Regions from separate parts of the Homo sapiens genome. Here region 1 is linked to region 2. A link means that fine-mapping ties the variant in region 2 to the plasma level of a protein whose gene starts in the linked region. Region 2 holds a variant in brackets. A gene starts in the other region. All regions are shown on their reverse strands. Region 1 holds the start of CHRDL1 (chordin like 1). Region 2 overlaps B4GALNT3 (beta-1,4-N-acetyl-galactosaminyltransferase 3).

The links. PIP is the posterior inclusion probability: the model's chance that the variant is causal. The UK Biobank Pharma Proteomics Project read protein levels with antibody pairs (Olink). The fine-mapping took linkage between variants from a reference panel, not from the people measured, so its PIPs are less certain.
Region 1: CHRDL1 starts here. The variant in region 2 is fine-mapped to the plasma level of the CHRDL1 protein (UK Biobank, PIP 0.94).

What each region holds. Positions count from the first base shown.
Region 1 is chrX:110,787,538-110,804,071 of GRCh38, reverse strand. CHRDL1 (chordin like 1) reads left to right here and starts at 8,255. Exons shown (of 12, transcript NM_001143981.2): 1 at 8,255-8,328; 2 at 11,857-11,984. The coding sequence starts at 11,891.
Region 2 is chr12:472,678-489,211 of GRCh38, reverse strand. All of the region lies in intron 1 of B4GALNT3 (beta-1,4-N-acetyl-galactosaminyltransferase 3), which reads right to left. LOC124902853 (a long non-coding RNA gene) reads right to left here. Exons shown (of 2, transcript XR_007063151.1): 1 at 13,699-16,534; 2 at 11,587-11,875. Among named protein-coding and RNA genes, the nearest start is that of B4GALNT3, 21 kb to the right of the region's middle. The variant T/C (reference allele first, on the strand shown) is at 7,833.

The DNA of each region.
Region 1 (16,534 bases), not on the chromosome of region 2:
ACTTGGGTTCTAAATGGGTTCTAAATGGCTTCCTGCTCTCCGCAGTCCCTTCCCTTAGTCTCCTTCCTGTAAGGACAAAAGGAGGACAGTATTCAGTTTACAGGAAGAACTCAGCAGTACTATTAGGGGTCCTGTACTGTGTCTTCTGACCTCCTCAAGCTAGTGCTCACCCTTCATTAGCTCATACTTCCCTCTCAGATTATCCTATGCCCAAAGGCTAGATAATTGGCCTGTGGGATTTTTAAAAAGACATAGAGAACAAGGAAGTAGTGTTGGTCTAAAGACAGGTTCCATGTCAAGTGTTGAAGCTTACTTTTTCTGGTTGATTTCTGACTCATTCTATGAATAAGATCTCCTGGCTCACGCTCCTAACTATTCCATTAACTCGATGAAGCTTTTTTGAGCAAATTCAAGCCAGTAGTGCTCCAGAGCCAGCTCTCACCAGTTTGTGAGAAGTCATTGTGCACAGCTTTTACCAACTTCATGTTAAGTGACAACACATTGTTAGTCTGAAATTGGCCATGTAGGAGATATTTACACAACAGAAGTCGGAAATTGCTACAAATCAGGGTTTTTGTTTTCCTCCCTAAAAAGCCACTTCTCAAATAGTTATCATTGTACATAATGGTTCAAACTCATACATCTCTAGGGGTTATGAAAGTAATGTGAATGACACACTGGGACCTGTCGTGGGGTTGGGGAAGGGGGGAGGGAAAGCATTAGGAGATACACCTAATGTAAGTGATGAGTTAATGGGTGCAGCACACCAACATGGCACATGTGTACATATGTAACAAACCTGCACGTTGTGCACATGTACCCTAGAACCTAAAGTATAATAAAAAAAAAAAAAAAGAAAGTAATGTGAATGAGTAAAACATGCCTGAGGGTAACAAAAGGGACACAATGGGGAGTGGTGGGGACTGTGGCAGTTGGCAAGCACATATGCTGTCTAAAAGCAGCGGCTACTACTCTATTCCAGTCTGTGTTACCATGGAGAGATGTCGGCCCAGTGTTCCTAGTAAATCTATTTTTTTATGAGAAACTGGAATCAAGGTCTTTTATGTAAAATCTCCCAATAATAAAAATTAAAGATTGTTTAGAACCAATTCAAATTTTGAAAAAAAAAATGTGGGCAGGCTCTCTTCAGCCCTTGGGTCAGCAGTTTGTCATCTTTGCTTTATGGAATCTCTGGTTCCTGCTCTTACCCCCTGGGTTATAGCTCTAAAGCTGAGTTGCCGGCATCTTTCCTAATGAGAAACAAATTTTCTTTACTTGAGAACTAAAAGAATAGGCAATGTGGATCTGAGAATATCCAGGTGGCTTCTTATGATTCTACTCTGGCTTGAGTCTTGTTTTCTAGTCCATGTGACATGAAGCTAGAGAAGAGCATACTAGCCCCAAATCTGCATCTAACATTTTATAATAGTCTCCAGGCACCAGGACAATAGCTAGTGCTTGTGCACCTGTGTGCAAGGAGAGAGTAATTTTACATCTTGGCATTAGTTTCTTTACTGTTTCTGTTGAAGGGATGTTGGCACTCTACTCTCCAACTTACTCCCCGCCTTGAAGAATAGGGTGGGAAATTGGGTTAATTATTGGTTTTCTCTTCCTGCTTTTATCCCCACTTTCTTTTAAAGACAGACAAACTGAAGCTTGACTAGCTAATAAAGAACTTTACTGAATGTGCAATAGCTTTCACATTTGGACTAAGTGGATGGAAGCAGGGAGGGGACAGTGAGGATAGAAACAATTATTGCACACCTACTATATTCCAGGCACTCCACATACAGTAGGCCATTGAACTGCCACAGTTACCTTATCATCATCCCCTTTTTACATACTATAAGGAAACAAGCTCAGAAAGGCTATATGACTTTTTGGGATTCTAATTCAAGTATGCTTGATTCCATAGTCTTAGTTGTCTTGGTTCTTTGTGCATCATGTTACTTCCCTGAGGAGACCTAGATGCTGTGGTTAAGACAATTAAACATTGATTTTTATTGCTTCTGCTGAAAAATAATAATAAATCAATCTGCTGCCTAGCTCTGGGAATAAAGGTGAAAAATCTGGGAAGTTCATGGAGGTTCTAGGGAACTGTGGATGCTTTGAGGTCCTATAGTAAGCTATCTAGGCAAATGAAATTTGATAAAGTGAATCAACATTCTATAGGAATACAGCTTCTAGAGAGGCAGTTTCTATTCTACCATATTGCATTTTTCTATGCATAGCATAACACTTGGACATATTATGTCTCCAATTTTTCATGACATCTTTGATTAAAAGTTTTAAACACCTTTGTATAACTGTTTGGAAATGCAGTTAAACTATCTGAAACAAATCTTCAGTCAGAAGTGGTGTATTTTATGCTCTGCCCATATGACCCACTCATGGTGATGATGAAGCACAATATAATTTTGGATCAAGAAATTAACTCCTTTCATCTTTTAGGTAGTTAATATAATCCTGTATACTATGATGAGATTATCTTGATTTTTAAAAATAAATATGTTCCTGAAATTTTCTGTAAGCCAAATCTTGCTTTTACAATGCCCTTTATTATAAATCTGGAGATGTGTTTCTTTGGGAAATGAATCACTTAAAATGCTTCTAAAAATATCTTAAAATCACTTAAAAAAGAAAATTATTTCTATAAGATAATATTCATATATAACACAAAGCACAAATAAAAAATACTTTGCGTTATTTTTGTTTACTACAATAACTGAAAGGCATAAATAGAAAATGACAGCTTAACTTATAAGAATACATTAAAACAAAGAGAATCTGCTCCTTTTAATTCTACCTTCAAGAATCTATAACCTACTCTTGCTATTTACTTATTTGGTTGTCATAAAATTCTAAGAAACAGAATTGTTTTCACTGGTGCTAAGAGACAGTATTGAAGGTTATGCTGTAAAAATAAGCAACACATGACTTTTGCTAAGATTTCATTAGCCAAAGCAAATCAAATGGCAATACTTAATTTCAAAAAGGGAAGAGGAGTAAAATCCTACCATGAGCTCAAAAGGAGGAAAGCTGGAAATATTAGATGAACCATACCAACTCTTTTTTTTTCTTTTTTTTATTTTTTTATTTTTATTATTATACTTTAAGTTCTAGGGTACATGTGCACAACATGCAGGTTTGTTACATATGTATACATGTGCCATGTTGGTGTGCTGCACCCATTAACTCATCATTTACATTAGGTATATATCCTAATGCTATTCCTCCCCCCTCCCCACACCCCACAACAGGCCCCCGTGTGTGATGTTCCCCTTCCTGTGTCCAAATGTTCTCATTGTTCAATTCCCACCTATGAGTGAGAACATACGTTGTTTGGTTTTTTGTCCTTGCTATAGTTTGCTGAGAATGATGGTTTCCAGCTTCATCCATGTCCCTACAAAGGACATGAGCTCATCATTTTTTATGGCTGCATAGTATTCCATGGTGTAAATGTGCCACATTTTCTCAACCCAGTCTATCATTGATGGACATTACTCTTTTTTCTAGCAGTTTTTAGAAATGGCTAGCAGGAAGAAAATACAACAGAGAAAAATTTCAGTAACAAACAAGAACATACACAAATAACAAAAGGGCTCATTAGAATATAGCTGAATAATCCTAAGGGGTCTTTACAGAGAATTGTCAACTTCTATATATTGAATCAAGTATCTGATTAATACAAACTCTAAGTTGGTGGCATCTTTTCTAAAAAGAGGTAAACCTATAGTACAATATACTCATCAATCTTTATGTATTCTGCCATTTTTGAAAGTTAATTTAATAACCTGAGTTTTCTAAGTCCCAGTGGGACAAGAAGCACTAAAAGGCAAAAAGTTTGTGCTATCAGAAAATTATTTTGTATATAATCATTTCATAATACCTCCACTTACATATTTATTTTTTAAATAAGTATGAGTTCTGCAACACATGGCATAGAAGATCAGCACACAACAACTACTTGCATTCATATATACTAGCAATGAGTGCATGGAAACTGAAATTAAAAATACAATAACATTTGCAATTGCTCCAAAGAAAAAGAAATATGTAGATACGAGTCTAACAAAATATGTATAGAAGTCATATGCTGAAAACTACAAAACACTGGTGAATGAAATCAAAGAAGACCTAAATAAATGGAGAGATACTGTGTTCATGGATTGGAATGCTCAACAAATTAAATTTGTCAATTGTCCCCAAATTGATCAATAGGTTTAATGCAATTTCTAGCTAAATTCCAGTAAGATATTTTGTAGACATAGACAAGTTTATTCTAAAGTTTATGTGGAAAGGTACAAGACCTAGAGTAGCTAAAACAACCCTAAAAAAGAGGAATAAAGTGGGAGGACCCACTCTACTTGAAATTCAGGCCTACCATATGTCTACAGTAATCGAGACTGCGTGGTACTGGTGGAGGCATAGACACATAGATCAATGGGATCAAATAGAGAAGCCAGAAATAGATTCACACAATATGACCAACCAATGTTTGATCAAGGTGTAAAAGCAATTCAATGAAAGAAAGATAGCTTTTTCAACAAATGATACTGGAGCAATTGGACAAAAATATATAGGCAAAATATGAACATCAACCTAAACCTTATACCTTTTATAAAAATTAACTCAAAATAGATCATAATTAAATGTAAAACTTTATAACACTTTTAAAACAAAAATATAGAAGAAAATATTCAGGATCTAGAGCTAGGTAAAGGGTTCTTAAACTTAATGCCAAAACATGACCTATATGACAGAAATTTGATACATTGGACATAAAACATTAAAAAATTTTGTTTTGTGGAAGTTCAAGGGAAGAGGATGAAAAGAAAAGCTACAGACTGGGATAAAATATTTGTGATAAGATATACAGGTGTCAAATAAACAATGAAAAGATGGTAGATATCATTAGGTTTTAGGGAAATGCAAGTTAAAACCACAATGAGATATCACTATATACCTACCAGAATGGCTAAAATAAAAAATAATGACAACAAAAAATGCTGGCAAGAATGCAGATAAACTGGATCTCTCACACATTTCTGGTGGGAATATAAAATAGTACAGTTGCTCTAAAAACAGTATGACAGTCCTTACAAAACTAAACATGCATTTACCATACAACCCAGGAACTACATTGTTGGGTATTTATCCCAGAGAAATGAACACTTACGCTTATTCAAATACCTGTAGACAAATGTTCATAGCAGTTGTAACCGAAATCTAGACTCAACCCTCCAATAGATGAATGGTTTAAACAAATTGTGATATATCCCTACCATGGAATACCACTCAGCAATGAAAAGGAACAAACTATTGATACCAGGAACAACTTGAATGGGTCTCCAGAGAATTATATCAGGGTTGGGGGAGAAGAGAGAAGAGACTATCTCAAAAGGTTGCATACCGTATGATTCCACGTAACATTCTTAAATGACAAAATTATAGAGATGTAGGACAATTTAGTTTAGTAGTTGACAGGGAGTAGGGAGAGGAGGAAGGGAAAAGATGGGTGTGACTATTAAAGTGTAATACAGGGTATCCTTGTGGTAATGGCGCTGTTTTATATTTTTACTGTGGTGGTGGTCACATGAATATACACATGCGATAAAATTGCATAGAATTATATACACAGGCAAATGAGTGCATATAAAACTGGTGAAATCAGAGTAAGATGAATGGATTGTACCAATGTCAGTGTCCTGTTGTGACATTGTACTATATTTATGAATGATGTTATCATTGGGGAAAACTAGGTGAAGGGTATTTGAGATCTTTCTGAATTATTTCTTACAACTGCATGTAAATCTACCATTATCTTAAAATAAAACTTTTTAAAAAATGAGTATGAGATTATGCTCTCATCCCTATTTAATAAACAGAGAAAATAAAGCATGAAGGTAATCATCACTTAAGTTTCTATAAGACCTGGTAGGATGTCTAGATTAGGACTCACCCAAATGGGAGTTCTCAATTCAGAAATCAAGATTGGAACTAATACAAAATACAAGGATGACTAACATTTACACTAATGAAAAACCTGTCAGAGAATTCCAGCAGCCCCATATACAGTTGCCTGCAACTGCATAAGAGATCTTAAGCAAGTTCAATAGAATCAACTCAATAGAACCAATTGAGAATAATTGCTTGCTTTAAGCCACTAGGTTTTCGGATGGTTTGTTATGCAGTAATTAGGATTCTACACCAAGCAAGGGAGTGAGTGGTTGTAGCCAAATAGATGAACTTTTAAATCCCAGTGAGTCTATTTATTTTAAATGCTAGAATTTATGTTTGTCTCAGACTATCCCTTGAAACTCATTTTCCAGAATACTCTGTAAGCATGTTGGAAGTAATGATGGGAGTTGGGTAATGCACGCACAAGAGAAATTGAACAACCAGTCCTTGCCCTTGAAGAACTCACAATCTAGTAAGACAAAACATCACTGCATTAAACGGCATGAGAACAGTTATAAGGCAACAAATCAGCAAGTTCAAACCGATATACAACAGCACAAATTGAATGCATGTGGCAGTGTATGGCTACCCAGGCAGCAGGACGGAGCTAGACATTTTGGGCCCTGAAGGCAACATTACAGAAAGGGCCCCCTTTCCTTTGTTAACAGTGAAATAAACATCACCAGCAATGCAGGGGCTAGCTGGATACTATTAACACTTCTGAAAAAGCAAAAGGAGGTAACGTTCAGGGACAATTATTCTTGTTTTAATTTTTCTTTGTTTTCTGTTCCTGATAAGTGGTTTGTTTGTTTGTTTGTTTGTTTTTTTGACAAGCCACAGTTTCTCTGAACATCAATTTCCTCATCTACAGACTGGAGATAACAACCAGAGAGTAGTGGGTTGAAAGTCAGGGAATCTGGATTGGAATCTCAAATTTGTCATTTACTAGCTGTGTGACCTTAGATACATCATCCTCTTCCCCCAATTCAGTTTCCTCTTCTGTGAAATGATGAAGTTAAGCTGAATGGTTCAGAAGTTCCCCACCAACTCTAACACTTGAGACCTCAGGTAGTTCGGTTGGTTTTGAGGGTTTAAAAAGTAATGTTGATGTATGTGAAAACACTCCGTAAGCCATAAAGTACTATACAGATGTTAGGAATATAGATATTTATCTAGTTCATCTAGAAAAAAGCTCTGCGGTTCTTCTCCAAATTTAGGGGCTTAAAATTTTGTCTGTCGAGGCAGCACTTTCCTGGACCCTAGAAGTTTCTGACAATTCTTTGCAACTATCACTTGTTGAATAAACACAAATTTGGAGTAGGCAGGCCCACCAAGGCATCAGCAGTGCTACTGTGATTTCCAGGTTGAGCTCTTGGCCCAACTTAGAAGCTTAGGGACTCATTTAAAAAAAAAATGGTGGGTATAGTGTGTGGCACCAAGTTTTCTTCAAGACACTTAACAGTTAGAACAGGCCCTTTCCATGAGGCTTGGGAGCCCAGTTTGTAAGAGAAAGTGGATTTCTAATCCCTGACCCTACACACACCCATCTCCACCCCGCCTTTAAGGACACCAAACCAAAGCTTTGTCACTCTGTTAGCCACAGTGTGGATATGGGAAACGCCGTGAAATGATAAGCAGCATGCTAGGGCGTGATTTGCGAGGAGGGTTCATTCTGTGTCCAGGGCACCAGCTCAGTACCAGACCAGGTGCACACCTCGGAAAGGCCTTGGTGCCGGAGGAGAGCGGGTGTGGGCTTCCAGGCAGGGGAGTCAGAGGGTAGTCGGTATCTTCAGGGCGTGCGCGAGTGGTGGGGAGCTCCTAGGTGCATCCAGTGCAGAGGGGGAGGAGGGACCGGAGGAGCTGTGCGGTCCCTTTAAGACCCCAACGCTCGCCTAGCCAAAGGAGTGGGGGCTGCAGTGGGGGCGCTGTGTGATGGGAAAGTAGCCGGCTGAGTCTCACACTTTCTCCCGATTTTTAAACTTTCGGGCCGGGGGAGCAGAAATAAAGCCATTGTGCCGGGGTGGAGAAAGTGTGCGTGCTTGCAGCGGCTGCGTGCTTGCGGACTTCCCGCCAGCGCCGAGCGGCCGGCTTCTCGGGCCAAGTGGGGAGCGAGCGGGAGGGCGGGCAGGTGGCCCCGGGCCGCCGCGCCCGCGCCTTGGCTCTGCCCCCGGGAGCCGAGCAAGCCGCTGCTCCCTCGTGGTGTGAGGGCGGTGATGTTTTTCCTCCCACCCACTTTTGAGTTCCCCCTCCCCCCTCGCGCGCACTCTAGCTCTCGCCACAACCTGCCAGCCCCAGACCTCGGACGAGAGCGCCCCGGGGAGCTCGGAGCGCGTGCACGCGTGGCAGACGGAGAAGGCCAGTGCCCAGGTTAGTGAGCAGTGCCCGGCGCCCGCTTCCCTCACCTCCTTTTCCAGCCTTTGCACAGGTGGGTTGCCTTCTCTTGGCCGGAGCCGTCCCTGGAAGTTTCCCCAGGGTGCCCCAAATTCCCCTGCCACCCCAACCTGTTCTGTGCTCCAGCAGTTAGCAACCTGGATGGAGGTGGGGCCCAAGGCTTCTGACCAAAGCAAGTTGGGGGTCTCTGAATTCGAACTCACAGCTCGTCCCTCCCCACTCGGCCTGCATTTCTTTATGCTCTGGCGCTTTGAGAGGTCACTTAGGTACTCCACCCTGAGCTACCCAAGGGACTCTGCAGTCCCCTTAATCACTGCCTGTATTCCTGAGCCTGTTTTCTCATTTTGCTGATGAATACATGGTAAAGTTAATGTAGCAGGGTAGATGGGCGAAAGGCTCCCTATCCTATCCTCTGGCCATCTGCCTCATTTTTTGTCCCTGACTACGGGGGTCAGAATTTGAGACACTAGGCTCTGGAAGCAACGTGGTATATTGCCAGAACATAGGGCCCGGAAAGCCTGCTTTCCAGTCCCTCCCAGCCCTGCCACTAAAGTTATTTGAGTTCTCTGGGTCCCCCCAGTGCCCATTTTGAAGGTGGAGTTGTGTGGAATGAAATGAAATGATAGAAAGGTGTTTTGCAAGCCAAATGCGAGGCATTGTTTGTCAGTCATAAGCAGCAATGAAAGCATTTCCTCCAACAAGAGATACCCTGGGTTAAAACTGCCATTTTCAGTGGCAACACACCACCAGTTAACTGAACTTTTCTTGCTGGGTGGTAGAGTGGGGAGAGGATTTCAGCTGATGGACAAGGGCCTGGGACTCCAGTGTCTTTCTTATTGTTTGTCGGAAAGAAAATTGCTACCCTAGGGGCTGTCCCACAGATGATAGTCAATGTGAGATTACAAGGTCAGTCAAGCCTCTCAGGAGGATTAAAGAGACACTGTGGGGCGTGAAGAACTGGCTGACATGTGTTCATCCCTTAGCCTTCCTGTGGGGATGTCTCTTTGCTTCTGTTCTACCCAGGAGACCTGTTCTGAAAGTGGGCTCCTGACACTTGATGGCCCAGATTGCCTTGCAGTCACAGCTGGGCAAGGAGCAGTTGGTCCCTTTGCTTAACGCAGATGAACAATGTGAATGCTTGTTTCATGGAAGCACCTTAATAAATACCTTTCTTTTGGTACTTGATACATTTCTCTTTCTCTTGTAAAACACAGGAACTCTCCCATCCCACCTCCACTACCTGTGTTAGTTGCAGGGTTTTGTTTTTTTGTTGTTGTTGTTGCTTTCTTGTTGGGTCCTGGATCCCCTGAAGCATGTCAATGGCTACATGTCTAAGTAACCTGTAAAAGAGCCAGTGCAAGTTCAATGGCACAACAGCCTGTGTGAAGCAGACAGAGAGTTAATGCAGAAATAACTCCAGTTAACTGGGTCAAAGTATAATTTGAAAAATTAAGGACAGTTTGGCTCTTTGCAAGAATAAGAGTCGGCTAAGTTCGCTGAGCAATGCTTGCTAGTGTTTACTGCTGCAGTCCCAACACATGTTTTGAACCACCCCCTTCCCTAAAAGAAAAAGCTGAAGAGATAAAGAGAAATTGAACAGTGAGGAGATCTGGGGAGGGAACTCTTCTTGGTTCATATTTCTGCACAGAATACAAAGGCAGGACTTCAGGATCTTGTAAATCAAAAGTGAATATTTATAAAGCGATTCATTTTCTGATGTTCTCCATCACAGCCTGGGAGGCCACACAGATGACAGGAACGCCAAAGGAGATTAATTGCTCTCTAGTTACCAACTTTTTTATTTGCTCATAATATTAGTTGGGACCTAAGAAAGGCAAAAAAATCTATGAGCTGTTTTCTTGCCAACTTGAGTTATGAAGCAATGCTACAGTTCACCGAATCGCCCAACCATTATACAAGAAAAGCAGCCCTGTTGATTCTCGCATGGGGAGACCCTAAAACCATGGTTTCAGAAACACCCGTTGAAATCCATATATGAATGTGATAAATTGGATTTCAGTGGTTAAAAATCTTTCTCTTTTGGAGGCTTGGGGAATAAACTTATTAGAATAGGCTCAGGAAGAACCTCACTGAGGTGGGTAGCTGTGTTAAATTGTTAATGAAAATGATTTGTTTCGAATAAACGTGGTAGCCCTCAAGGGACAGTAACATTCTGAGTGATTGTAAGTGGGCCACAAACTCACAGAGGGGACCAAGACATCAGAACTCAGGTCTTTAGATGGGTAGGAACATGTCCTGAGAGAATTTGGTTCTTTAAGGAGCAGGGAGGAGGTAAAGAAGGAAGGCAGACGGTGCTGCAAATCTTGTTTGATAGCACAGATTACTCTATCATCAGTTCTTCCTTGGTTATGCATTCATAATTGAAACAGTGGATTTTGAATGACCCAGGCAACTTCATAGCATTTAAGTAGGAGCTGTAGCATCTACTTCAGAGCCCAAAGATATTCAACTCTCCAAAATGATCGTTTTGCATTCCTTCAAGTTCTTTATGTGCAATATTTAGGTTGGACTTTCTGGAAAGATCAATGAGTTCATTTCCCATTCAGATTGAATCTGGTGTTTTTAGAACATTTCAATATTTTCAGATCACCCATTGGAGGAATTTTGCAAACTCTAACATCTGTGGAAATGATCCGTGACTAGATGTGAGCTACAGCAAACTTTCTGTGTTCCAAGGTTCAAAAGGTTTAAGATTTCTACCCCTTATACTGGGAATGCCAATCTCATGTTTTGAAGAACTGTAGTTGTTTTAATGGTCTTTTGCATGGTGGTGCAAGGTGAACAAATTATCTATTTAATTTGCCCAATTTCCCCTAAAAATGGCCCATTTAAAATTTCCATTTTACAATGGACTTCTTGGGGGAGGAATATGTTGGAACCATTTTAAGCAGTAAAACTTTTCAGGTGTTTAATTGCATCCATTTGCTAATTACATCTATCTTTTGCAATATTAGTTGCCAAACCAAAGATCCTTGTAGATCTCATAGAGGACACAGGAGAAACTGATCAATTTGTACTTCATTCCAAAAGGATTAAAAGTAGTCTTGAAGCTAAGATTAGTTAACTTTCATTTCAGAAATTGCTTGGTCTCATGCTTGTTACTTTTACCTTGTTTGCTAAAATAACCGTTTTTGCAAGCTAAAGTTTCCCTTTTCTCCCAAAAAAATCTCTTGAGAAATCAACTTTAATTCCCTTAGAAAGGAAGATTTCAAAATTTATTTTCATTTTCCTATAACTTGCCTGTAAGGACTTAGCCTCAGCTTTGGATAGGAATGCACCCTCATTCACTTGAATTTTCACCCACAAGCCTTGCAAGACAGGAGAGGCAAGTCCTTTATCTTGTGCAGGCAGACAATACTTACACTTATGTAAATTCTAGGACATTTTTTTTTTATTCTAGCAGGTTAGAAGCCTGAGCATCAGTGACCTCTATCATTTCCAGAAGATCTGTGTTAAGTCTTTTTTCTGCTTTCTTCCCAACAGCTTGAAGGTTCTGTCACCTTTTGCAGTGGTCCAAATGAGAAAAAAGTGGAAAATGGGAGGCATGAAATACATCTTTTCGTTGTTGTTCTTTCTTTTGCTAGAAGGAGGCAAAACAGAGCAAGTAAAACGTAAGTGTCTTGCATTTGGAAAATAATACACTTTTTATAATTTCTTTGAAAATGTGGCTATAATCTGTAGCAATTATGATTTAGCCCAAATGTGGCCGTGCCATTATTCTAAGAGAAGAAAGTGAATGTTACTGGTTTATGCATGAATTGATAAAAGAATGAGAGCTTTGAATCAGGCCAACTAAATTTGGGGCTGTTTTTCTGATTATCATGTAGTCTTTGTCTCATAGAACATATGACACATTAGCTTATTTTCTCTTCCCTGTTCTAAACTATACAAATCTCATTACATTTTACGTAACTCTAGAAATATCTGACAGATGAGCTGGAATTTTCCCAAATTTCAGACTCTTCAGCAAAGGCTTTCAGTTTATGAAAAATAATGACACAGAAAAGAAAAAAAAAGAAAAAGAAAAGCAGGCTCTGCCTATTCCCTTATGCCGAAAAACGAGGAAGGACGAAACCTTCCTATGAACTGGGCTCAGATGAAAAATGTTTTGAGGAAATTGAGATTCCAGGGACCGTTAGCAAATTGGATGCCATTTATTGAAAAGAACATCCCCGCAAAGCCAGGGAATATTTCTAGAAAGTCAGCGATCCGTGTAATGGGCTAACACATTGGAGAAAGCAGAGAGTGGCAGGAAGTGGGGGCGGGGGGGATAATTAACCCTCCTTGCTGCCACGTTTAGGAGATTTATGAGTAACGGTCGACATATCCGTTCTTGCTGCCTTTGCACAATGTGGGTCTTACCTTCTTTGGGCCACTTGCAGCCATCTCTGAGGTAGATGCTTGCTCTAAATTTGAAGGAAAAGCCTAAGCTCTAGTTCCCCTTTTTGACAGCATCAAAAAAAGCACAAAATGGAATTGGTCCAAGAGGGGCATTCTCTGCTTCACTGAACTTATTCATGAGAAGGAGCTGTGAAAATATTCTTGGTAGGAACTGAAGCAGCATCTGAAGCCCTTCACTTAAACCTTTATCTCTTTTATCACATAAGTTAAATAGATCAGGCAGAAGGCTTGCTGACAAGGAGAACAGTGCCAAGCCTATTCCATCCTTAAGTGTGTTTCTGTCCCACTACAATTTTCATAGTAAGTGTAGTCTTCTTCCTGGGAGAAACAGTGTTTAATAGTGTTTTTGATTATGCTTTTGAGCATGAGCGGTGTATGGTGATATCTAGTATGATTGGGACACAAAAGGAAGTTTAGTGGGGCATGATCTCAGCAAGGAAGCTTGGATCAGCCTCTACTCTTGTATCCCTCAAATTGCTTCCTTCTTCTTCCACTTGAATATAGTTCATCTCAGAATCCTCCTCTTCCAGAAGCCTTCCTTGATTTAAGTGGATGTGACAGAAGCATCCATGCATTCTCAGCTCAGCTCACAATTAGCTGGGCTTAGGGATGAAATATTACTCAATAAGTACAATGTACATTATTTGGGTGATGGTTACACTTAAAGTCCACACTTTATGCGATATATCCATGTAACAAAACTGCACCTGTACCCCTTAAATTTATACAAAAAAATCTTCCTGTCTTAGAGAGAAACTTCCCTTATAGCCTGTTAATGATGACCTCATGGGGAAAGCTTGTAACTCTCAGAAGACCATCTCTTATGGAAAGCCTTTCATATTTATGAAGAATTGAATATTGTCCATGAAACTTAGACAAAGAAAGATGTGACTTAAAAAAATTACAAACCCAAATCTACTACTTTCTAATATTTCCTTGTGCTGATGAATTTGTCCCAAGCCCTTTTGATATTCAATTGGTGCCAAAGTGATTATGTAACAGATGGCCTAGGGCACCAGATCTGGTCCAGTGTTTCAGGCTTATTGTCAGATGATGACGCTAAGGTCATGGTCCTTCCCTTAGTGAGCCACTGAGCATCATTATGTGTGTCCATGCCCAAGCTAACTGTTCTGAAGACATGCAAAATCATCTCTGCTAAAGGGAAAACCTCAAAGCATATGTCCTATATATGCTGTCTTGATATATGCATGCACATACACAAACACACACAATATGCATGCACAGAGATTTATATTGCAGCTCTAACAGTGAGAAGTCAGAAGCAGTGGAAATGTCAGTTCATAGATAAATAGTTACAAAAATGATCCAGGTAATGCAATATAATGCTACTATTAAAAACACTGTTTATTGAAAATTTGGTGGCCCTGGGAAATGCTTGTTAACTTATTTTTAAGTTTCTTAAATTATAAAATTAATATATATGCTTATTATACAAAACAACATGAAAGCATCTGAGCTTCATATGGAACATGTGTCCCTAAACTCTCATTCCACTCTCCTGGGATAACCATTATTAGTGGTTTGCTGTGTGATCTTCCAAACTACTTTCTTTGTTTTATAAAATTATATATACATGCCTGTATGATATTTTATTTTACAAAAATAGGATATTATATACACTTTTCTGTGATTTGCTTTTGCTCAATAATGTGTGTAGGACATCCTTCCATGTCAATACATTGCAATGTAATAGTGCCATATTCTTTCTAATGCTTGCATGGTTTGCAGTTGCATAAGTTTGCATTGGTTTATTTAACCAGTCTATATTTGTAGATATTGAGGTTGTTTCCGGTTTTTGCTATTAAAAGTAAGACATTTATGAACATCTTTAGGCACTTATTCAAGTATTTGTGAGAAATAGTCGAAGTGCATGTTCAGTTTTAATCTTCATAAGTACTGTCAAATTGCCCTTCATATAAGTTGTATTAATTTATGCTCCCACCATCTATGTATGAAAGTCCATTTCTAATTCCTTCACCAAGATTATAATCAATCTTTGTATTTTGGGGCCATTTTAATAGGAGAAATAATCTGTAAGTTTTGCTTGGTATTTTTCTCTTTCTGCAGCATCTTTTCGATTATGTACTAGTTCAATTTTATTTCTTCAGTGAATTGTCTATTTTTAGTTTGGTTGCTTGTGATATTTATTTGTTAAAAACTTACTTATTAACCTTTTATATTTTAAATATTATTTTTGATATGCCACTTGTTTTAATCTTTAAGTTGTATTTTTCCCATATAGAAGTTTTAAAATTTTACGTAGTCAGATCTGTCATTCATTTTCTGTATGGCTTCTGGATTTCTTATTCCTAGGAAGGTCTTTCTCACCCTATATTTTTATATTTTCTTCTACTGCTGCCATAATTTTATGTTTTACCCATAGTTCTCTATTCCATCTGAAATTTATATTCCTGTATGGTATGCAATGGGGAACTAATTTTTTTTAAATCTCCGGATGGTAGGTTTATGAATGTTATTTTTGCTCACTTTTATGCTTCTGTCTATTCCAAAATTTCCACAATTGGCAAGTTTCACTTTTAAAACAGGAGAAAAGCTCTTTTTAAAGTAAAAGTACATCTTATTTCCCATATTTTTACTGTGCAACTCTAGAGACAAGTTGGTATGTGAGTAGATGAAGAAACAGAGGGGTTTTCTAAAATTAAAAAGGAAAGCAACTGGAAAAACTTCAGAAAATGGGTAAGAGTAGGCCTGGGTCATAAACCCTTCACGTCTCTCCTTGTCTGACACCATTTTACCAAAAGAAGGCAAAGTTTTTTATCTTGCAGGGGCTGGTTAGAATATAAGCTTTTAGGTCAAGGAATGTGTTTTGTAGCCTGTTTGCTCTCCTATTTGGGGCATCACAGGGGAATGACGGGGGATGCCATTATGGTCAAAGATGCTCACTCAATTGATTCAGAAATCTGAAGAGGTGTGGAAAAAACGCTTTGTTTGTGGAAAGCTCATCACAAGGAATGGTGAAGATGGGTGCTGCCACTTGCTGGTAGCTAATTAGCCATAGTTACAATTTCTCTTATAAGAGAGAAGACAGGCTCAGGAAACCCGAAAATACTGATAGTGCATTGCAATGGATGAATGAGCCATTTGTTGCTTACATAAAAGTTTGTTACTGTTTAGCATCAGCAAGGTTTGAGTTCTTTAGCTGGGAAAAGGTCCTTGTGTATAACTCCATTATGCTCTGTTGTTAAAGTTGTAGTCAATGAGGCCAGGAAACTCTTTTGAAGTTCAAAGGAGCGTAACATTCACAGCATAATATTCATGCAAATATGGGATAAATGGGCTGAAGAGTTTGCCCATTTGGCAGATCTAACTTAGGTAATGAACTATTGATCAAAGTGAGGTTGAAGAATTGAATTGTTAAGAATATTCAATTATGTATTTCTAATAGACCAGCCTGTGCCAAGTCTGGCAAAGGTTCTGGAGAGAGAAATTGTTCATGTATTTCATGCAGTCCACTCCTGCTTTACAAGGTAGTTAACTGGATCTTCAAGGAGCTAGATTGTCACTTATTTTTCTCCTCAAGAGAAAAGCTTCCAATATTCAGATTTGGCTAAAAGTGGGCCTCTGGACTTCTCAGGAAAGGCAAGCCACCAAAAGATTGAAGGGAAGGAAGAAGATACTTAGAAAGTTTGAAACATGTGAAGCCCACTTAGAACTTCTCTATTGTGAGAGCCAGCCAGGAAGGCATGGGTTTTCCTCCTCCAGATTCTCCCTTGGTCAT
Region 2 (16,534 bases):
GGTATTTGTCCTAATGCTCTCCCTCCCCTTGCCCCCCCACCCCAACCCCTGACAGGCCCCAGTGTATGATGTTCCCCTCCCTGTGTCCATGTGTTCTCATTGTTCAACTCCCACTTATGAGTGAGAACGTGGTATTTGGTTTTCTGTTCCTGTGTTAGTTTGCTGAAAATGACGGTTTCCAGCTTCATCCATGTCCCTGCAAAGGACATGAACCCATTCTTTTTTATAGCTGCAGTCTTCCGTGGTTTTAAGCGAGCATTTTAATGATTCCATTATTTCTCTCCTTTGTTAGCATATCAGTTATACTTTTTTTTTTTTCCAGTGGAGCCCTAGAGTTTACAACATACAAGTAAACCACATCTGCTTTCTTTTTTCTTTTCTTTCTTTTCTTTTTCACAGGGTTTCACTCTGTTCCCTAGGCAGGAGTGAAGAGGTGCAATCATAGCTCACTGCAACCTTGGGCTCCTGGGCTCAAGCAGTCCTCCCACCTCTGCCTCCCAAGTAGCTGGAGCTACATGCATGTGCCATTGTTAAAAAAATTTTAAAAATTTAATTTTTAAATTTTTTTGTAGAGATGGGGTCTTGCTATGTTGCCCAGGCTGGGACATCCACTTTCACACAACACTATACCACTCCACAGGTAGTGCAAGTACTTTACAATAACAAAATATTCCTAATTCTGCCTATTCATCTCTTGCATTAATGCTGCAATTCATTTCACTTATATATAAGCATACATCAGTATATATGAGCATACATAATTGAATACATTGTTATAATTTTGAATAAACCTATCTGTTAGATCAATGAAGAATTACAATTTTTATTTTACCTTCAGTTATTCATTCTACAACATTCTTCTTTTCTTTATGTAGATCCAAGTTTCTGACGTATCATTTTCTTTCTCTTTAAAGAACTACTTTTAACATTTCTTGCAAGGCAGGTCTACTGGCAACAAATTCCCTCAATTTTTGTTTGTCTGAGAAAGTATTTCTGCTTCACTTTTGAAGAATCATTTCACAGGGTTCAGAATTCTAGGTTGATGGGGTTTTTTTTTTTTTTCTTCTTCTCAGCTGTTTAAATATTTCACTTGACTCACTTCTTGTTTGCATCTCAAAGTGCTAGGATTACATACGTGAGTCACCATACTGGCCCATACCCGGTTTCTGAGAAGTCAGATGTTAATTCTTATCTTTGCTTCTTGATAGGTGTTTTCCCCCTATCTGGCTACTTACAAGTTTTGGGTTTTTTGTTTGTTTTGGAGACAGGGCCTTGCTCTGTTGCCCAAGCTGGAGTGCAATGGTGTAACCACAGCTCACTGCAGCCTCAGCCTCCTGGGCTCTAGTGATCCTCCCACCTCAGCCTCCCAAAGTAGCTGGGCGCATGTCACCATGCCTGGCTAATTTTAAAATTTTTTTTTGGTAGAGACAAGGTTTTACTATGTTTCCCAGGCTGTTCTTCTTGGTCTTCTTCTTCTTTTCTTTCTTTTTTTTTTTTTCAAGATAGAGTCTCGCTCTGTTGCCCAGGCTGGAGTGCAGTGGCACGATCTCGGCTCACTGCAACCTCTGCCTCCTAGGTTCAAGTGATTCTCCTGCCTCAGCCTCCCAAGTAGCTGGGACTACAGGCATGCGCCACTACACCGGGCTAGTTTTTGTATTTTTAGTAGAAACCAGGTTTCACCATGTTGGCCAGGCTGGTCTCGAACTCCTGGCCTCAAGTGATCTGCCCGCCTCAGCCTCCCAAAGTGCTAAGATTACAGGTGTAAGCTACCACACACGGCAAGACTTTTTTTAAATCTTTGACTTTCCTTAGTTTGAATATGGTCTGGCTAGGTATTGTGTTTATTGTTTTATTTTGGTGTTTATCCTGCTTGATGATTTCTGAGCTTCTTGGATCTGTGGTTTGGTGTTTATCATTAATTTGGGGAAAACTGTCAGTTGCTATCGTTTCAAATATTGCTTCTGTTTCTCTCTTTTCCTTCTGATATTCCATTATGTATATTTCACCTTTTGTAATTGTCCCACAGTTCTTGGATATTCTGTTATGTTTTTGTCTTTTTTCTCTGTGCTTTTCAGTTTTGAAAGTTTATGTCGTCATATCCTAAAGCTCAGAGATCCTTTTCGTAGCTGTGTCCCATCTACTAATGAGTCCATTGAAGACATTCTTCATTTCTGTTAGAGGGGTTTTGATCTCTAGGGTTTCTTTTGATTCATTCTTAGAATTCCCATCTTTCTGCTTACATTAGCCATCTGTTCTTGCATGTTGTCTACTTTTTTCATTAAAAATTTTAATATATTAATCATCATAGTTTAAAAAAATGTCTGGCCTCTCTAACACTTCTTCCATACCTACTCTGGTTCTAATTGTCCAGTCTCTTCAAAATGTGTTTTTTCCCTTTTAGTATGCCTCGTAACTTTTTGTTGAAAGTGATGTGCTGAGTAAAACAAATTATGAAAAGGGCCTTTAGTGATATCGTGGTTAGGTGTCCAGGAGCAGATGCATTCTATAGTTTTATCTCAGTCTTTCAATGAGCTTCTGCCTCTGGACTGTGATCTACATCAGACTTCTCCCCACTCTAGATGGGACAGGATGACCAGAAGGGGCTGGTGTTGGGTATTTCCCCTCCCCTAGGTAGGTTAGGACAGCAAGTCAGGCTCGTAAAATAGTTTCCCCTGAGGGCAGGCCTTGTTAAGAAAAACAGAATAGGCCGGGCTTGGTGGCTCACACCTGTAATCCCAGCACTTGGGAGGCCGAGGCGGGTGGATCATGAGGTCAGGAGTTCAAGACCAGCCTGGCCAAGATGGTGAAACCCCATCTCTACTAAAAAGACAAAAATTAGCCGGGTGCAGTGGCAGGCACCTGTAATCCCAAGTACTCAGGAGGCTGAGGTGGGAGAATCACTTAAACTTGAGGGGTGGAGGTTGCAGTGAGCCAAGATCACGCCACTGCACTCTAGCCTGGGTGGCAAAGTGAGACTCCGTCTCAAAAAAAAAAAAAAAAAAAAAAGAATATTTTGGTGTATTTCAGAATGCTTTCTTTTTCCCTCCCCCTGCTGGAAGTAGAAGGGGATTTTTCTCCAAAATGTACAGGGAGGACTTGGTAGGCTCCTAGAGGTAAAACTCACACAAGCTTGGGACTGAGTCCCCTGGAATTTTTAATTCTCAGACTTGTTCACACTGAGCCTCCAGTAATTCATCAATTACAGTTTAGGTTTTCCTGCCTAGACACTGGTTTCTGCAGAGGTTTCTGCTCATGGATTTCTGCTTTGGTAAGTTGTGATTCTCTGCATCTGCCTACCTGTCTCCCCAGTTTTGGGGACAGCAGTTTTCCTTCTCACCTCCCTTCTCTGAGGAATCTAAGAATTGTCGATTTCCCAGTCTGTTCAGCTCTTTACTTGTGGTTAGGACAGAAGGGCAGAGATTCTGAGCTCCTTACATGGTAGACCAGAAGTTGACTAGGTTTAAAAATCAACTTTTTAAAGTATAATTTATATATAATAAAATGTATCCATTTTACACGAACAGTTCCGTGAGTGTCGATAAATCATATGCTTGTATCGCCTCAGTTATTTTTTAAGCTTCCTAGGCAATCCCATTCGTAGCTGAGGTTGAGAATCATTGTTGTCATTCTCAGTCGCCAGCCGAAGCCTTGGGTCTATCGACCCTGAGGTCATTCACATATTTCTGGGTCTTGGTTTCTTCACATCTCTTGCTCCTAGTGGAACATCTGTAAACACCACCCCACCATGGGGGTCCCAGTTTGCTGGTTCCTAATGTCATAGAATCAGACTCCAAGTAGAGATAGAAAATGTATTTGTGTGGTCAAGTGATTAATCTACCATTCACATATCTACTGAGCCTGATCCATTTCCCATAGCTGGTTTCTCCCTCCTTTTCTCTCAACTTTGCTGCCCTTGGACTGTAAGTACATCTTTCTTCTCAGTGCCCACGCTTGCTGGGGATGTAGCAGCCTCCTCTCACATCAGGCCAGGCTTGTCCTGTCCCTGGCACATCCGTGCTTGTTTCCTCTGTCTTCATCCTCCCTCATCATCTAAGTCCTCTGCATCATACACCCCAGTTCAAATCCCACCTCCAACACCACGTCTTCCTCCTCTATGCCAGAATTCACTTCTCATGAGGGTGCTTCTGGGTGCTGGGGAGAACATGCCAAAGGGATGTGTTATGTGTGACGTGTATATTTTGTCTATGCGAGAACACCATAGCTCTTGGAATACCAGTTGGACAGCGTTCACACTTCCTTGTATCTCCTGAAGCCCACATACACCACAGGATGGACCTGAGTTCAGAACACACCGGAATTCACACCATACATACCACTGGAAAGGTCTGGGACCATTACTGGGAGGAATTTAGCATCCTCCAAACCAAAACGAGTGGTTTTTTTTTTTTTTTAATTTTTCTCCTCTTTCCTGTAGACTTCATTGTCTCCTTCCTTCTCTGTTTCTTTTCCCATTTCCTGACTTGTCCTGCCTAATCCTTGGGCCAGCCTGGGGCCAGGCGGCATCCAGGTCATTGCTTAGCTGTGTTCTCTCATCTCTTCATGACCCTTTATTTCTCAGCTCAGCTCATCTGGAGAGAAAGTGTACACCTGAGGCTCTCTACCTTGACTGCCCTTCAGAGTCACCTGGAGAATGATGCTGGGCTACTCCTCCTCTCAAATCTAACTGATTGACTTGGGGTGAGGTCTTACACGAATAATTCTTAAAGCTAGAGTCCTTAAAGCTCCTCAGGTACTCCAGTGTGCAGCCAGGCCGAGAACCACTGTGAAAGCTCAAGGATTTCAAAGCCTCAGCCTTCTCAGCAAAGGGTGATGGCCCCAGAGATAACCGTGGCACGTGCCAACAGGATGGCATTGCTTGCATTAGGGGTGGGGTAAGGACAGGTACTTCGTATCTCTTACATCTCAGCCTCAGAATGACCGTCACTGACAAGTGAAAGCCAGCACCTCGGGGAAGGCAGGGCGGAAAGAGATGTGTAACTGGAGGATGCTAAGAGCAGGGAGGCAGTCTGCCTGTGAAACAGGGATCGTGTGCTCCTGATGGGGTCAAGGAACGATTAGAGAAGGTGTCACCTGAAAAGTCGCTGGTACGGGATTAGTTCCTCATAAATGTCAGCTTTTATGCTGATATAGTGCTTTCATATTCAAATTATTTGGACAAGAAGGAGCAGCAAGTAAAGTTAGTTCCACTTTATGAACTGGGAAACAAATTAGAGAGATTTAGTAACTTTCCTGCCTTTTTCTCCCCTATCCCACCCCAAGGCCAGCTCACTGTGCAAGTCAACTCGCCCCTCCACCATTGCAGTGTCATGGCTAAGATGTGAGCACTTGAATCTGACTGCAAAGAAGATTCACCATGAAACTCTGAACAAGGTAAGTACCTCTGAACTTCAATTTTCTCACCTGTAAAATGGAAACAATAGAAAGTGTCCGTTGTGAGGATTAAATGAGATCACATGTGCCACGTGCACATAACTGGGCTACTATTTATTGTGGGGGACAGGGTCTCACTATGTTGCCCAGGCTGGAGTGCAGTGGCATGACCTCAGCTCTCTGCAACCTCTGCCTCCCGGGCTCAAACGATCCTCCTACCTCAGCCTCCTGAGTAGCTGGGACCACAGGCACACACCACTACACCCAGTGAATTTTTTGTATTTTTGGTAGAGAGGGGGTTTCACCATGTTGCTCAGGCTGGTGTCAAACTCCTGAGCTCAAATGATTCATCTGCCTTGGCCTCCCAAAGTTATGGGATTACAGGTATGAGCCACTGTGTCCAGCCAAGCTGGGCTGTTACTATAATAGCTTTGCCATGGTTCTTACCACCCTGCCTTGTAACAGCAAAGCTACTTGTCTTTCTCCTTACCTAACTCCACAGGCCACTTTTCTCTAGCTGTCTCACTTTTCTTTCTATATTTATCAATTGCTATTTAAAAGAAATATGCATCTAAAGGAATATATAGGATGGTTTAAAGAATAACACCTACAACCGTGCATCCTGGCTTATGTCCATAATCCCAGCACTTTGGGAGACTGAGGTGGTAGGAGTGCTTGAACCCAGGAGTTCAAGACCAGCCTGGGCAACACGGTAAGACCCTGTCTCTCCAAAGGGAAAAAAAAAATTAGCTGGATGAGGTGACATCCACCTGTAGTGCCAGCTACTCAGGAGGCTGAAGTGGAAGAATCACTTGAACCCAGGGGGTTAAGGCTGCAGTGAGCCATGATCATGCCACTGCACTCCAGCCTGGGTGACAGAGTGAGATCCTGTCTCCAGAAAAAAAGAGAGAAAAGAAGAATAACACCTGTGTACACTTTCTTTCCTTCTGAAATGGGGTCTCACTATGTTGCCCAGGCTGGAATGTGGTTGCAATTCACAGGCTCTATCATACATCACTTCAGCCTCAAACCCCTGGGCTCAAGTGAACCTCTCACCTTAGCCTCCTGAGTAGCCGGAACTATAGGTGTGTGCCACGGTGCCTGGCTGCATATGCTTAAGAAACAGACACGTTTTGAAGCCCTCTGTGCCTCTCTCCAATCACATCCCCATCTCTCTCACCGGAAATAACGACCTTCCTGAATGGTTTCCTTGGTTTTCTCTTTACCAAATACAGACGAATCCCCACAACTTTTTTCATCATTGTATCCTCCAAATATTGATCTTTATTGGAACTCAATAAATGTTGGATAAATGAAGGGATGACTGTCCTAACAGAACTTAAAACTGGGATTTTGACTTACTAGCTTTTTAACCTTGGACAAGCCTCTTTCAGCCTCAGTTTCCTCATCTGTAAAAGGAGAGCACAGATTCAATGCTCTCTGGGTTCCCTTCCAGCACAGGTCTATGATTAGCCAAGGAGATGTTTCCTGAAGCTTGGACTTGGCATACATGGACTGTGGCAAGCCACTGACGGACGATATCAGAGCTTCCCCACTGGTGTGCTGTGGCTGCTAGTAGGCTCCAAATGGTAACGTGTCCCAAAGTATCAGCCCTCAGTGCTTGGAGCAGCAGAATCTGAGGGCTGGCAACATCCAACCACAAACCTCTTTATACCCCTATGTGTGTTACAAGTATCTTTTCCTGTCATTTTCTCTGTGTACTAACAGGAAGGAGGTTGAGAAGCACTCAATTAGATTATTGGCTCGGGGTTGAGTGGGAGGCTGGATTTAGCCTATAAACCCAGAACGATTTGGGGACACCCTTTTCTTCCTGTTGCCCCTACCTGCCCCATTTCAGAGGCCCACTGACCTACCATCTAAGATGCCGTATCAATGTTTTCTGGTCTACAAAGCCACCTAGAAAGAGGAGATGGAGGACAGAAATATCTTGATGCAAGAGGGAGGAAGGAAGCACCCTCTGTGCAGAGGGACCCTCATCCAGGCTTCCCCACAGCTGAGGCTGAGGCAGGAATATGCCCCCAAGAGCAGACCTGGAGCGCTGTGTCCAGGGCTCCCTGCAGGGCGGCTGAGACTCCCCCCAGCCATCCAGCCCAGCTGCCTGGGCCCAGCCACAGCTGTTGGCAAAGAGTCTCCAGGTCTAAAATTAGCTCCGCTCTCCACCCAGGCAGCTCCACCATGCACTCTGGCAGACAGGGGCCCTGCGGTGAGGTAATGACTGGGGCCTGTCTGCCTGGCCTCAGGACAACACAGGGTTAGGAGAAGGCAGCACAGAGCAAAGTCCCACTTTCCCACCATGGCCAGCCTCAGCTGGGCACTGGAGAAACCACGAGAATCAAGAGTGACTGGATGTGGGCAGCTGGACTCCTGATTTGCTTCTGGTTTTCCTCCATGTCTGCACCCATGGTGCCTACCCCGTCATA[T/C]CCTAAGGCACACCAAGGAAAGGAAAGCAACCCTTCACTGAGAGCTTGATGTGCTAGCTTTTCAACTTGCTGCCACGGCACTGTGAGGTCAGGGCCATTATTCCCATTACACAGAACGCCACGGGGATGCTCATCCCCTTAGTTGACCTAAGCCAGTGACCCTGGGAGGAAGCATCCAGAGTCCCACCCCTCTTCTTTGGAGGGGAAGTCTGCTTCCTCCAGGGGCACCTCTGGTGAAAGCTCCCTCCCTCCCTGAGGCATGGCCATGACTCACTAACTCCCACCTCGCCTTCCCTCAGCGTCTGATGGTCTTTGTGGTGGGAGCTGCCAAAATAAGCAGCCAATTCCATGGCCAATCCCTGGGCAGAAATCCCTCCCACCCCTGGGCTAAGCACACAGCAGTGTTTCTGTGTTGGCTGCCGAGCAGGCAGGGAGAGATAGAGGCAAGGCTGAGAGGGACTGGTCCAGTCCTTGGCCTGCAAGGGCAGAGGAGGAGGCTGTGACAAAGATGACCACGGTCACCAGGGCCTGGGGAAGTGCCCCCAAGTCCCTGCGCCTCTCCCGCCAAAGGCTCCCCAGAGATGTCTAAGGACCATCGTCCATGACCCATGCAATTGCACCCCTCCTCACAGCCCCCGCCTATGGAGCCCACCCTTTTATTCTCAGGTGACAGGAGGAGGGGTGAGGACAGCCGCGGTCCCGGAGATAAGGCTGGGCCTGGGTCCCACTCCCCGTCCTGCTTGAACGAGAAGGCGAGGTCACCAATAGGAACCCAGGCATCTCCCCAGGGCTCCTTATCATAGTCTTTCTCCAGCCACGGCCAACTCAGAATCCCCAGTGCTAAGGCCAATGCATTTTCTTTGGGAATAATGTCAGTCAGGGGGACCTCAGGAACCAGGCCGTCAAGCCTTCCGTAATGTCAGGGTCAGAGGGACCTCAGGAACCACACCGTCAAGCCTTCCGTGTTTACGGAAAAGGAAACTGACGTCCGGGGGCAGAGCTGACCTGCTCAAAGTCACAGAGCCAGTTCCCACAGAACCAAGACTGGACCCCACACAGCCTGAATCCCACAAGAGTATTCTTACCCTAACCATATGCTTAAGAGAAAAAGGACTTATGTTTTTTCCTTTTTAATTGGTCAGTTCTGAATAGAACTCCCCATCCTGGCCGGGCGCGGTGGCTCACGCCTGTAATCTCAGCACTTTGGGAGGCCGAGGCGGGCGGATCACGAGGTCAGGAGATCGAGACCATCCTGGCTAACGCAGTGAAACCTTGTCTCTACTAAAAATACAAAAAAATTATCCAGGGGGTGGTGGCGAGCGCCTGTAGTCCCAGCTACTCCGGAGGCTGAGGCAGGAGAATGGCGTGAACCCGGGAGGTGGAGCTTGCAGTGAGCCGAGATGGCGCCACTGCACTCCAGCCTGGGCGACAGAGCGAGACTCCATCTCAAAAAAAAAAAAAAAAGAACTCCCCATCCTGGTTGGTTTTTTTTTAATTGGTCAGTTCTGAATAGAACTCCCCATCCTGGTAACAAACTCCAGGATCCACTGCACTTACATGAGCAAAAACGAGAGAGAAATCACCCGACCACTAAAGGCCTCAGTTGGACACGGTGTTCCCCTCCAGCCTAAATACTCTATGATTCTACAACGTGGCTTCTGCCGTCCTCCTGCTGCGGCACGTCTCAGTTAACACAATTCACCAGTAACTCTCCCTGTTCCTTGGCCAAACGTGCTGGTTTCTTCCCAGGTATCATTCTTCCAGACTTTTTATCTGCACCTGACACAGTTGCTCAACTTCCCCCTTATCGAGAGTCCTTAGAAGTAAGATCCTGTCCCCCATATTTCCCTGACTTCACTTTGTTTCTCTTCTTGGCTGTTAGGTGACCAAAGGTCCCCTAAGTATATCCCCTTTTACTGCTGATGACCAGATTCAAAGTCCTACTGCCCCTACCCAGTTTGGCAGTCCAAGAACAACAGTTCAGGGAAGGGATCTGGGCAGAGTGGGGCAGTGACACCATCAAAGCCACAGCCATCACTGAACACGGTGGCACGTGCTTGTAACCCAGCTACTCTGGCGGCTGAGGTCGGATGATGGCTTGAGCCCAGGAGTTTGACACCAACCTGGGCAACATGGTGAGACCCTGCTTCATTTAAATAATAATAAAAAAAAAGCCACAGCCATGAAACAAAATACCTTCACCAAGAGTCAGGTCACTGCAGAGAGACTCTAGGCTGTCTCCTGTGGCCTGCTGAGCTTCTGAACTCTGCTACATCCCCTACCTGGAGCTGAGTCAGAAGCCTTGATTCCTTCAGGACTTAATAGGTTTGTCTGTGCCAGCTTCCTCTTGCCTTAGTTTCCCCTCTCTATAAAGGAGGCTGTAACCTCTGTCTTCCCAGCGAACTCCAGGATTCATCACGCTAGGTGGGTGTCATTTTCCACTTCCATTGTCCATAAGGACACCTTCCCAGATGGGTGGAAAAGGACCAAACTTCCTTCAGGGAGAAGAGCAGTAGCAACCTCTGATCCTGAAGGTAACCACAGCTGTGACTTCCCAGGAGAAAGGTTCTATGTAAAAACAGGGTACTGTTGTTTGCCTGCCCTTCCACCCCTTCCTTCCCAAGATTGGTTCGTGAAAACCCTGCCGGCTGGAGAAAGTGTTCACCACCCTGGAACTTTCCCAACCTTCTTAGAGATACAAAGGATCAGAAAAAGATAGAAAAACCCTTTCTTAAGGATTTTTTTTCCTGTTGAAAAAGCTGCTAGAAGAATCATCACTGAAAATATCACAACCAATTTCTATATCCCAGAAACTGAACTTCCCTATTCTTTTTTGTATTAACAAGTACCTTGGGTAGTTTTTGCCCATTTCTTTTTCTCAAAATGGTAAATGTTGACTTCCAATTTGATAGCTCTTGCTTCAATCAATAAATACTTCCCTAAAACAGACAGGTGGTATTTCCTAAGCAACCTAATTAAAGCTTTACTACTGGAGAATTTTCTTTATGCAAATATTTTTTCAATTTTCATGCATCAAAGCAAAATTGAATTCTCATTCAACAAGCTAAATCAGGCTTGAATATTTTTTTTTTTTTTACCTCCTCTAATTTTTTTTTTTTTTTTTTTTTTAAAGACAGAGTGTCACTCTGCCACCCAGGCTGGAGTGCAGTAGTGCGAACACAGCTCACTGCAGCCTTGATCTCCTGGGCTCATGCGATCCTCCCACCTCAGCCTCCCAAGTAGCTGGGACTACAGGGTTGGGCCACCATGCCTGGCTAACTTTTAAATTTTTTGTAGAGATGGGGTCTTGCCATGTTGCCCAGGCTGCTCTAAAACTCCTAGGTGCAAGCAATATGCCCACAGCAGCCTCTGAAAGTGCCAGGATTGCAGGCATTCTGAACCATTGTGCCCCCTCTATAATCTTCCAAACATGTTCTGAACCTATTTGTTGCTACCTCTCTGCCACTTTTCTTTAATCTGTTACCCATTTCACTTTTTACCCTCACACTGCCAGTAATGGACTTCCATTTGCTAAACAGAACTAGGATTATGAAAATATCTGCCCTCATCAACTTGTATATTTCTACACAGAGAGAAGAATAACGGATAAGACAGCAATGTTTTAAATACATCATGAATCTGTCTACCAAAGGGCTTCATCATTCATGTGTTCCAGGATTCTTCTGATCTAAAATCAACTTCATCTATTCATTATTTCCCATCCCTTCTCGATTCAAGAAAGTGAGAGAGGAAATCATGACTCCATTTGCCTTTTATTTAAGAAGCTGTACACTGGAATGGGTTCCGTTTCTCAGGACGGGAGTGTGCAACAAAGGAACCTGTTGGATGAAGAATGTCGAGCCTTGGCCTTTCTCGTGCAATGTGAAAATTCAATTCAACATCAACAATAACTTCTTTGCAGGTTACTCTCCAATATCAATGTCAATGCAGGGTGTCAGTGCATGGATCACCCCTAAAGGCAGCTGAGTTGGGAACATGCATGATCCACCCCCAACTGAGTGGCAATAACTTCAGCTAGTTCACTGGTAAGAAAAAAATAGATCAATAGACTTGAGGTTGGTCTATATGCAGGCACAATATACTACCAGATTGTTAGGGCAGTTAGAAAAAGAAAGGATCTTCCCTGACCTCGTGAAACTCAGATGTTAAAAGGAGGCATCCTCAGCAAACAAAAAGGGAATGAGCGAAGGCAGAGGGTGAGTGGCATGGTGTGTTGTAAACAATAGTCTAGGCACCAGGAGTCCTATAAACTGCTATATGGGCAGGTTGATTAAAGCTCTCCAGGCTTTCAATTCTTCACTGGTAAAATCAGGAGGCTGGGTAAATAGATAACCTTTTTAAGGGGCAGCTCAAGTCAATTTGTAGTGACTGCCTGGTGAGAAATGTTGAGAAAATTCTGAGGCTGCAGCTGAGCTCGGTAAAAGAATTTCATGTTCTATTGGAGATGTCTGCCATGGGCCTAGAAGAAGAAATGCAGATATAATCCATTTCAGAATTTAAAATCTCTGGACTTCTGCTTTGCTTTTGGTTTTCTTCCATGTCTGCACCCCTGGGGTCCACCCTGTCCTAGGATTCTTTGATATGTGAAAGTCAGCATGCTAAAACCAATCAAAACAGGGACAGAGGGTATTGAAAAGCTGATTAAGTTATAATAAACAATGGCGCCTAACATCTACTGCATGTATCTTCAAATCAACATTCAATTCTGGGCACATACTAGGCGCTCAGATAAGCATTTATTTATTTATGAGGCAGGGCCTTGCTCTGTCACCCAGGCTGGGGTGCAGTGGCGTGATCACAGCTCACTACAGCCTCCAACTCCTATGCTCAAGCGATCCACCTGCCTCAGCCTCCCAAGTATTAATAACTAGCATTACAGGTGCACACCACCATGCCCAGCTAATTTTTCTTTATTTTATTTTATTGTTTGGTAGAGATGGGGGTCTTGCTATGTTGCCCAGGCTGGTCTTAAACTTCCGGCCTCAAGGGATTCTCTTACCTCAGCCTCTAACCTCTAAAAGCACTGCGATTACAGATGTGAGCCACTGTGTCCAGCCATCAGCTAACATTTATCAAACACTATGTATTAGAAACTGTTCTAAGTACTTTATCTGTATTATTTCACTTAATTGTCACAACAAAAACACAATGAGACAGGTACCATTAATAGTCCCATTTTACAGAGAAGAAACTGGGACATATTGAGGCTCAATAATATGCTCACTGAGGCGCAGCTGACTAAGGACAAGAGCCGGGGATCAAAGTCACGTAGTCTGACTTCAAAGCTTCTCACCACTATGCCATGGTAAAGGAAGGAAGAAATGGAGGACCAAAGACAGCAGCAGATGGCCTGGAGGGCACAACAGCAATGCCAGAAGTTAAGGCAGCAAGGATGGCCATGTCCATACGGAGGAAACACGGGCACAGCGAAGCCTGCGCCGACCCGATTCTAAGGGAACTGCCTGCCTCTTCCAAGCATTCCATCAATGCTGTGGGGAGAGTGAAGCAAACTGTCCTAACCAGATACTCTGGAGCCATCTTTGGCTTCTCTAGCAACCTAGCTGGGACACGCAAGACCAACCCAGATGAAGTAGGAATGAAAGAAAGTCAGTGATCAATTGTAAGTTTCAGAAAACTTAGGTGCAACACAAGTTCCAGAAAGAACGAAGTCAGCTGGTTCTAAAATAATTGAGGAAGGCTTCAGGGAAGAGATGAGAGAGAAGGATAAGCAGAGTTTTGAAAGACAAGCAGAGGGATGTCATGAGACTGGAAAACAGCAGGCACAGGGCGAAGAGGAGGCGCGGCAGAGCCCAAGGGAAGACCAAGCCCAGGGAGGAGACCCCACCTCCGGTTCTGCCGGGACAGGAAGTGAGGGTGAAGCTACTGCTCTCTGGATGGCTGCTTCCAGATGGATGATTTAAACACTCTTCTGCATCTCCCAGCAGCAGGGTTCTTCCTGGCTCTCTTTCTCCCACCTAACATCTGTCCCCTGCAACTAGAGCAAGGAGATTTAATAAGGAGAATATTCCCAAGTCATCAGACTCCAAGAACATACCAGGCACTGGGTAAAGCTTCAGGCAGAGTTCTTAACTAGGGATCCATGTATAGGGGTCAGGGGACTGTGTACCTCCTCCCAAAATAGTATGCAAAATATACAGGAGACGAGCAAACTTCTGGGGAAAGTGTAACCGTTTCTTCACCAGATTCCTTTTTTCTTTTCTCTCTTCTCTTCTTTTCTTTCTTTTTAGATAGGATCTCACTCTGTCACCCAGGCTGGAGTACAGCGGTGAGATCATAGCTCATTGCAGCCTCAAACTCCTGGGCTCAAGTGATCCTCCCACCTTAGCCTCCTGAGTAGTTGGGACCACAGGCATGCACCACCACACTTGGCTTTTTTTTTTTTTTTTTTTTGAGACAAGGTCTCCCTCTGTCACCCAGGCTGGAGTGCAGTGGTCAATCTTGGCTCACTGCAACCTCTGCCTCCCAGGCTCAAGTGATCTTGAGCCTCCCGAGTAGCTGGGACTATAGTAGTGCCACCACTTCCAGCTAATTCTTATATTTTTTGTAGACAGGGTTTCACGATGTTGCCCAAGCTGATCTTGAACTCCTGGACTCAAGTGATCCACCCATCTCAGCCTCCCAAAATGCTGAGATTACAGGTGTGTGCCACCATGCTTGGCCTGGGCTAATTTTTAAATTTTATGTAGAGACAGGGTCTCGCTATGTTGCCCATGCTGGTCTCAAACTCCTGGGCTCAAGCCATCCTCCTACCTTAGTCTCCCAAAGTGCTGGATTGCAGGCATGAGCCACCGTGCCTGGCCTCTTCATCAGATTCTTACGGATGTATGTGATCCACAAAAGGTTAAAAATCTCTCCACAAAGAGGGGGAAATGCCCAGGTCCAGTATCTAGAAATTTACAATCTCATGGGGGAAGACAAACAGACAAAAATAACTCTGATCCAATGCTAAGGTTGATAAGTGTACTAATGGACGTGCGGAAAAAGTGTTGTGAGGGAGGGGACGGGGTTAGTTCCAGTCTGGCTTTCAATAGGACATCCCCCATCCCCCCATACTGGTTTTGGGATCTGGGTTTGTGATGAAGAAGAAAGCCACGATCATTTTCTGCCCAGCCCAGACAGTCTTTAGCCAGTACCTCTTTCTCAAGCACTCCTGGTAGAAAACTCCAAGTCTGAGGCTGACTCTATTCCTGCCAGTGAGGTGAAGGAGGACGTTGTTTTCAGGACAATGGATTAGGAAGGAGACGCTTATCCTGAAAACCAGCAATGACTCTGTTCTACATTTTTTTCCTCTTCTACCCAGCTCCCATTCTCCAAATTCCTGAGGTCTTTGTAATCCTGACACCCTTTTGGTGTCATGTCCTCCAGCCCTGAGTTATCTGTCTTAGGACTGTCACTTCTGGGAGAGCCCCCTCATCCTCCAAGCTAGTCCCTTTGTGCGATTATTGCTTCTTTTTCTTCCCAAATAGCATCACCATCTCAAATCCCGATCTGTTTGTTTACGCGATTATCCTCTGTCTCTTCCTCACCAGAAATGTATGCTCTGTGATGGCAAACTCTTCCAACTTCTTGTTCCCCATGATCTCCCTAACACCCAGAGCATAGCCTGGCATATAACAAGTGCTCAGTAAACACCTGCTGAATGAATGTCTGCCTCCCCACCCTTTGCATTCTTCTGTAGGACCACCATGGTACTCAAGCTCCAGAGAGGAAAGTACAAGGACAAATGAAGGCATTTTTTTCTCAGGAGACCATTTCTGAGATGCTGGATGCACAAGACAACCCTTAATTAAATGATTGTGGCAGAGTACAGCCAGAGACCCACGTATGAAACCCACAACTTTGGTATTCCATCACCTTCTCCATCAACCCTACTGCCAAACTCTGTCACTTCCTGCCTTGACATGTCTCAGCTTTCATCTGCCACTCCTTCCGGCTAGGCGCTCACCACCCACCCTCTCGGTCACTGCAGTAACCACCTCACTACATCCTAGCCATCCTGCAAACTTCCAACAGCCTAATCAACCTACAGTCACAAGTTCCTGGGATGTAGAAGGGGTTGGTAAGTATTTAAAGGCAGTGGGGTGGCTCACGCCTGTAATCTCAGCACTTTGGGAGGCTGAGGAAAGAGGATTGCTTGAGCCCAGGTGTTCAAGACCAGTCTGGACAACATACTGAGGCCCATCTTTACAAAAAGTTTAAAAATTAGCTAGGCATGGTGGTGTATGCCTGTGGTCTTAGCTACTAGGGAGGCCAAGGCAGGAGGATTGCTTAAGCTGAAGAAGTCGAGGCTGCAGTGAACCACTAGACTCCAGCCTGGGTGAAAAAGCAAGATTCTGTATCCAAAAAAAAAAAAAAAAAAAAGTGTTTGAACAATTAAAGTACAAATCAGTGGATGAAAAAAAGAAAACACTCCCTCCATATCAAACTCCTGCTTTAAACAATTTATGTTGGCTAGACACAGTCACAGTGGCTTGTGCCTGTAATCCCAGCAGTTTTGGAGATAGACGCAAAAATATTGCTTGAGTCCAAGAGTTTGAACCAGCCTAGGCAACATAGTGAGACTCTGTCTCTACAAAGAAAATTTTAAAATTAGCAGGCATAGGTCGGGCGCGGTGGCTCACGCCTGTAATCCCAGCACTTTGCGAGGCCAAGGCCAGCGG